Homo sapiens: one gene and its partner. The protein of the gene in region 1 purifies or fractionates together with the protein of each later gene. This does not show direct contact. Each region holds a gene or a part of one and is shown on either strand. Other genes may lie near its edges.

Region 1 (3,816 bases):
CCACGTTCATCTGGATGCTGCGCTGCATCTACGAGACACAGAGCCAGAAGGTGGGGCAGCTGGCGGCCAGGGGCATCTGCGCCAACTACCTCAAGCTGACCTACTGCAACGCCTGCTCGGCCGACTGCAGCGCCCTCTCCTTCGTCCTGCATCACTTCCCCAAGCGGCTGGCCCTAGACCTAGACAACAACAATCTCAACGACTACGGCGTGCGGGAGCTGCAGCCCTGCTTCAGCCGCCTCACTGTTCTCAGGTGAGGCTGCCAGGCAAGGGGAGCAACAGGTGGGCCGGGCGGGCCAGGCTCGGAGGGCATCGGGAATGGCATCATGGACCAGGATCCCCCAGGACTCATGACCATGGCCCTTGGAATGTCCAGACCTTTTCTTTCTTAGCAGGGCAGAGGTCAAGGTGCAAAGCTTCGAGGCAGGTGGACCTGGATCAGCCACAGCTGGGTGCCCTTGAACAAAGTGCTTAACTCTCAGAGCCTCCACGCCCTCATCTGGAAAAAGAAGATGCTCATAATCCTATCAATTATGGCCACAGGGACCAATGTTAGTTGAGAATGGGTGAAGTGCATTACAAATATTACCTAATGGAATGCTCTTTACAACCCTGTAACTTAGGTACTGTTATTGTCTCTATTTTGGCAGATAAGGAAGTAGAGGCACAGAGAAGTTAATAGCTTGCTTTAGGTCACACAGCTCAGACATAGCAGTGCCAGAATGCATAAAGAACCTTCCTTTTAAGATTAATGTAAGGCTCCGAGATAGCCCTCAAAAAGTTTCTGGAATATGGGAGCTTTTATTACTGCAGAGAAAGCAGACCTTGTGCCAGTTGGCACTGGTGACTTTCTGTGATCAACGCTAGCAGCCCTTCACACTGCTAGAGACCTCAGTTAAAATGCTGACTCGTGGTTGTTTTCCTGTTCCATAGTTTACGGGAAACAGAGCCCAGTCTGTTTTCTTCTATTAGCATTTCCTATGTAAAATAAACCTTGTAAATCTCTACAGGGGGTTAAATTTGCCATTACTTGACTCATGCATTTCTAAAAAGCAGTAGGGATTTGGAACTGACTCCCAGTGCCTGTCACACCAGTGTCAGAGTGTAAATAATTGCATGGGGACATGGGGTGCAGGGGGTCGAAGGCTGCCCTAGCCTGGGAATTGGAAAACCTGGAGTCTGTTCTCTGTACTCTCAGCCAGTGACTCTCCCTCTGTAGCCCCAGGCAGTCTCACACTCAGTGCCACCCTCTGTCCATCTTTTTTTTTTCTCCCCCAAATGGAGTCCCGCTCTGTTGCCCAGGCTGGAGTGCAGTGGCGTGATCTCAGCTCACTGCAACCTCCGCCTCCTGGGTTCAAGCGATTCTCTTGCCCCAGCCTCCTGAGTAGCTGGGATTACAGGCACACGCCACCATGTCCGGCTAAGTTTTTTGTATTTTTAGTAGGACGGGGTTTCCCCATGTTGGCCAGGCTGGTCTTGAAATCCTGACCTCAGGTGATCCGCCCGCCTCGGCCTTCCAAAATGTTGGGGTTACAGGCATGAGCCGCCGCACCCGACCCCTCTGTCCATCTTTTCAATGGGAAACTCCACACCAGTGTGGTGGCCCTGCCCTTCCTGCTGTCCCCAGGTGAAGCTTTCCTTCACACCAGTGCAAGAAAAAACAGCTTGTAGGAAAGCAGAGGATATGGGTAACCACGGGAAGCACACTCAGTTCTCTGGCTGCATCAGTTAGGATTAGTTTTAGCTGAGAGCGAAAACCCCAAATGTTGGTGAGTTACAAGCTTATTTCTCTCATGTAAAAGTCTAGAGGTAGGTAGTTCAGGACTGGTATGGAGTCTCCATGACCCTCCGGAGCCCAGGCTCTCTTCTGCCTTCCTGTTCTGCCATCCTCACTACCCGGCTTTCCCATCTTGGCCCAAGAGGGCTGCTCAAACTCCAGCCATCTAGTCGACACTCTAGCTATCAGTAAGAAGGAAGGGCAAAGATTGAGAGCATGCCTCAATCTTTTAAGAACACTTCTTGGCTATTACTAATTATATTGCTGCTTAGATTTCAGAACTTAATGGTATGGGCAGAATTTAATGAGATGGGCCCAGCTAAAAGATGGGGGAATCTATTGCTAAGAAAGTATAGATATTGGGAATGTCTAGCAGCCTGTGCTGTCTTGGGCTGGCCATGCCATGTACATACACACTATTTCCCAGCACCAAGCTGGGGACTCTGAGGGAAAGGGTCCAGAGTGTCTGACTTGATCATTTTGATGTGGCCTAAAAATCAAGCTTTTAATTGTTCAGCCTTTTACTTGTTATCAAGGTCAGCTTGTGGGTCTAATTGGGCCCAAGGCTTGTGTTTCTAAGTAAAGTTTTATTGGAACGCAGCCATACCCATTTATTTACTTACTGGCTGCTTCACACTACACAGTTGAGTAGCTGTGACAGAGACCACATGGCCCACAGAGCCTAAAATATTTGCTGTCTGACACTTTACAGAATGACATGAGCAGTCTCCTTTGACAGTGGGACTCACAGCCTTTTCCAGTGACAAATCAGGGTTAGCCCATGTGTTTCTGGATGGGGGGAAGCTGTTGGCATTTTGGGTATAACAGTTCTTGTGAGACCTGTCCAGCATTTTGCAGGACACCTAACATCATTGGCCCTGCCTGCAAGATGACAGGGCACTCCCTCCTCCAGTCACAACCACTAAAAGCAGCCCCTGACATTTCCAAACCCATGCCCTCCACCATACGAGAACCAGGTACAGGGTCTGGCTGACACATAGGTCACACGCAAAGGGTGGATGTCAGAGGTGGCTGGCCTCACACGTCCTCCCTGTGTCCTTCACGGTCGTGTGAGGAGCCAGGGGCTGTGCTGCAGCCTCGCTCATGGGCTGGTGCAGGATGGGTCTGGCGGCCCCACGTTGGCCAGGCTTTGTAAGGGGCTATTTGGCTGATTGCTGTGGCCATTCTCCAGGGGCGTCTATACCTGAGAAAACTCCAGGGCCTGAAGGCTTCTGGATCTTTGTAAGATTAATGGTCCTTCATAATGAGTGCCTGCCCTGACTCGTAATTTTTTTGCTGTTTTATTTCAGACTCAGCGTAAACCAGATCACTGACGGTGGGGTAAAGGTGCTAAGCGAAGAGCTGACCAAATACAAAATTGTGACCTATTTGGGGTATGTCTTTCTCCAGAACACTGGGCCAACTACCTAGTAATAATACAGAGCTGCAGGGAATTCACATTCCCATAGGTCCCTGGATGATCGGCACGGATGGCCCAGGGCTGGGAAGAGCGCTGGCCCAGGAGTTGAGAGTCCTGGGTTCTCTTTGTGGCTCGGCCAGTCATGAAGTCTTGCTGAGCCTCAGCCTCCTCACCTGTAAAACTGGGATCCCAGTATAGGCAAGTAGGCTTACAACTGGTTATTGGGGGATGCAACGAGAATATAAGGGGATATATTTAATAAATGCTAGAATCCTGTTTACATATTAGTCTGGACTATTTTGGGTCCATAATCCCTCATCCAGAGCCTTTGGGGCAAGACCCGAATGGGGATTCTGAGTGCATGCTATGGCATGACGTGGCCGCAGGGGTCTAAGGCAGTGCCCCATTTTCAAACACTTTCATATTTCTCCCGCAGAATGTATGAAACAGTCAAACCAAGTGTGGTAAGAAAGACTATAAGTAGCTCCACATCAGTTGCCAAAAGAATTGTGAGAAACTTTGGGCATTCAGAGCCTTTGAGGTTTTGGAGTCTGAGAGAAGGGATTGCGGGCCAGCCCCACACAACTGGTGGCTCTGCAAGCTGGAGCAGTTGTTCAGT
Region 2 (3,816 bases), on another chromosome or scaffold:
GGTTTGTAACACAAAAGATAAATGCTTGAGGGGATGGACACTCCATTTTCCATGATGTGATTATTACGCATTGCATGCCTGTCTCAGGGTATCTCATGTACCCCATTAATACATACACCTACTATACACCAAAAAAAAATAAGATTAAAAATAAAGAGACTACAACCTTGGATTTCACTTGGAGAAAATAGAAAAAAATAAAAGAGACTACAACTTATTGTCACAAAAAAAGAGAGTGAGGGGGAGAGAGAAGGAAGTGAGCAATTTGTAAAGATAAAAAAGGGTTAAAGGAAAGAGAGAGGGAGGGAGGAGGATGAGAGGGAGAGGATTTGAAGGAGTGGAAGTGGAGGAAGGGAAAAGAAGGAGGGAAAAAAAGATCATCTAAAAGTAAGAAAATACCCAAAAATGTCCCCCCCAAAAAAGAATTAACCAGGAAAGGAAAAGAGAGATTAGAAGGGATGAATAAGGGCAAGGATTGAGGCAAGAGAAATAAGAAACTAAAGGATGCAGGAATGGAATAGAAATAGAAGAAAAGGAAAAAGAGAAGGGAGATAGAATAGAACTAAAGGGGATAGAGGAGAAGAAAGAAAAGAAAGCAAAGCTTGAGGAAAGACCTAGAAGACCAAAAGGAAGAAGCAGCGTCAAAACAAAATAAAAATTGCAGGTTGGGGTTTGCAAGGAGAGCTCAAGGCTTCTTTCCAACTGCCTAAGTACCACAATACTATAGTGAGTTTATCCACGGCGTGAACAATTTGAACCCCACTTTCTTCCTGTGCTCTCATTTTCCCTGCCTTAATAAGAACTCCATTGGTGTCCTATAAAATAAATACTAAAATCACCATAGAATAAAAACGTGATGTCTTTGATAGTGAAGAATGATTGCTTATAAAATCCTAAATTAAAACACATTTTGTTTTGTTTCTCTTTATCAAGATATTGTTTGAAAAGAAAATGCTTACTTTGGAAAGTTCTTTCTCAAACTTCTGAGAAAGAACATGAGCTGTGAATTCCAAGCGTTCCACTCTGTCCACGGGAAAGGTGGTGTCTGGCAGGGAAACAGAGCACTGGCAGGTCCCACGGTCATCCACGGAGCCGGTGAAATTGGAAAACAACTGCAAATAATAACAAGTTGAACATCAATAACAAGCTGGAATCTGAGCTTTTGGCAACTGGAGTGACAGAAATTGGCTTGTCGAGAGTACTTACAGGCAAGTAAGTGGAGTCCAATACATAAATGAATAGAATCATAGAAACAAGCTAAAACAGCTTTGTTTTCACAGGTGGGGACCACCCAGCGTTTAGCCACATCGCCACTGGTTGTACGAAAACCACTACGCCAGCAGACTTTACCTAAAGGAAGATTCCCCATTCTCGAGGCTTTTTTTTTTTTTTTTTTTTTTTTTGAGACGGAGTCTCACTCTGTCGCCCAGGCTGGAGTGCAGTGGCGCGATCTCGGCTCACTGCAAGCTCCGGCTCCCGGGTTTACTCTATGCTCCTGCCTCAGCCTCCCAAGTAGCTGGGACTACAGCCCGCCACCACGCCTGGCTAATTTTTTGTATTTTCAGTAGAGACGGAGTTTCACCGTGTTAGCCAGGGTGGTCTCGATCTCCTGACCTCGTGATCCACCCACCTCGGCCTCCCAAAGTGCTGGGATTACAGGCGTGAGCCACCGCGCCCGGCCATTCTGGAGTCTTAAAGGAGATTATTCCTATCTCTATGCAAGGAAAGGGAAATAAAGAAGCTATGAGAGTGCTAAGTTTGAATTTCAATTCTAGCACTTGCTAGATGTGAAATCTCCTTAATTCTTAGTTCCTTCATCTGTAAAATAGAGATAACCTACTTCACAGGGTTGTCCTCAGTATTAACGAAGTAATGTGAGCCAAGTCCCTGGCACAGAGTAGGTGATCTGAAAATGTCACATTCTCTTTCCTTCTACTGCTCATTTTCTCTTCCTCACCTTCACCCCAACCCAATCCAATTCCTTTTCATCAGAATGAGGGAATCACCAAAGATGTGGGCTACAGTGAAAATATATGATGCAAATTCATATCCTCTCATCGCCTGGGAAATTGCAAATTAACATCCTTCAAAATGGGAACCAGCCATTTGTTAGAAAGTGAATAGCGTATGAGCTTGAAGGTTTTGTGCAATTTTTTTTAATAAAAGTTTTTTTCCAGCTTACCATTTGCAGAAAAAGTCATTTTAAAATATTTTATGTTCATTTAAGATATTCAGACTCACACTTCAGTGCCACCGCATATTTTTAAATGACACTTTTGAAAGATCCTGTTTTTCTTTTGTCCCCTTTGAACTTCCCCAAGAGGATCCCAGCACAATTAACATTTTTTTATTACTACTATTGCCTTACAGAGTAACCCTTGGCAGCCAATTTGCTGTGCCTTTTAATGATCTCATCTGAAAGCCAACCCAAAGCTCACCTGTGGAACATCAGCCTGAAGGGACTTTTTATGAAACCTCTAAGGAGACAGCAATGGTCTTCAGAGCCAGAAGTGACTCTGGCCATGTCTCTCAAAGTTCAGGTCAGCCAGCTGCAGGTGGTGTAATGGGTCCTGTGCATTTAATGGCCACCAACCTCCATAATGCCTGATCAAGCTGGGTCTAGATGCTTCTATAATGAAGACTTATTTTATCACTGGCCTCGGGGCCAATCAAGGCTTTTGCATCTAAGTTGTTTTTAATTTAATTTAAGTTTCAAGATGAGCAGAAAAAAAAAATATGTGTGTGTATCCAATCATATTTTTTATGTGTTTAGTCAAAATTTATTACCTTGGTCTCAATTTTCTTTTCCAATCACATCCCTACGTGGGAAACAGTTCAGGAGTAGGGAGGAGAAACAAGCAGATTTATGTCGAACATAGGGGTGGACAGCAGGGTTTGAATAGGGGAAGGGTCTTTGCCAGAGATGAATAAAGACTCGGTAAGATACACCAGGAACCTATCAGAGAGGCCAGCTTCCCTTGAAACCAGCTTTACTCATTTCTCCAAAGATAGAAAGACTCCAACTCAAGCATGCCAAGGCTTTTACAGAAAAGACCGACATATCAAGGACTTTTGAAGAAATAGCTTATTATAATAACAGTCTAGCAAAAAAAAAATCTTGCATTGCATTTTAACAAGGGGAGTTTAATTAGCTGCACAAACAGGGTTGGGCCATTCTCAGAGTTCTCTGAAAAATTCTGCCAACTCAGAAAACAGTGGATATCATCAAGCAATCTCTAGACAGTCAATTAGGAACCACTAGCTAACAACTTTTAGTCCTGAAGTTCACTTGAAAGACAGACAAGTAATTATGAGCCCTGCTGTCAGCCATTCCATCGGTTTCTATTGAACATCTCTGTCCCAAAGCTGTGGACTCCCCCAGCTTCCATCCTGCTTATCATCAGCCCAGCATGCTCAGCTGACATCAAAATGGTCCATAAGTTTGATCAGTGTCTCCCATTAGAGATATTTCTGCTCCTCGCATTCAAAGACAATGAAGCTAATGGTGATGAGTCTCTCTCTGCGGTGAATGCCCAAACTCTACATGAATGAAGCATGGGGGATGGGAGACAAAGACAAGAGCTTGTCCCCTTGGCCTTTGGAAGAATATGCGATTCCCCTTCTGTAGGGCAAATAGGACCCTGAGTACCTCACAAGACACCTTATATTGGTAGGTTTTCCCTAAGCACGTGTTCAATTAACATTTACTGATGTCTACACTATGCCAGGTTCTGGCTTTAGGGAGATGATTAAGACTCAATTTCTGCCCAGGAATCAGGCCCACTGTCACTCTGAAAGCCCTACTTGTTTTTTCAA

What was found.
Region 2: the proteins of NOD1 (region 1) and OLFM4 purify together in Homo sapiens (co-immunoprecipitation; one study listed by IntAct). This does not show direct contact.

What each region holds. Positions count from the first base shown.
Region 1 is NC_000007.14:30,447,653-30,451,468, reverse strand, and holds part of NOD1 (nucleotide-binding oligomerization domain-containing protein 1), read left to right. Parts: coding exon 1-253; intron 254-392; exon of another isoform or gene 393-551; intron 552-3,087; coding exon 3,088-3,171; exon of another isoform or gene 3,172-3,177; intron 3,178-3,816. UniProt on the Homo sapiens protein: Pattern recognition receptor (PRR) that detects bacterial peptidoglycan fragments and other danger signals and thus participates in both innate and adaptive immune responses.
Region 2 is NC_000013.11:53,031,644-53,035,459, reverse strand, and holds part of OLFM4 (olfactomedin-4 precursor), read right to left. Parts: intron 1,113-3,816; coding exon 960-1,112; intron 1-959. UniProt on the Homo sapiens protein: May promote proliferation of pancreatic cancer cells by favoring the transition from the S to G2/M phase. In myeloid leukemic cell lines, inhibits cell growth and induces cell differentiation and apoptosis.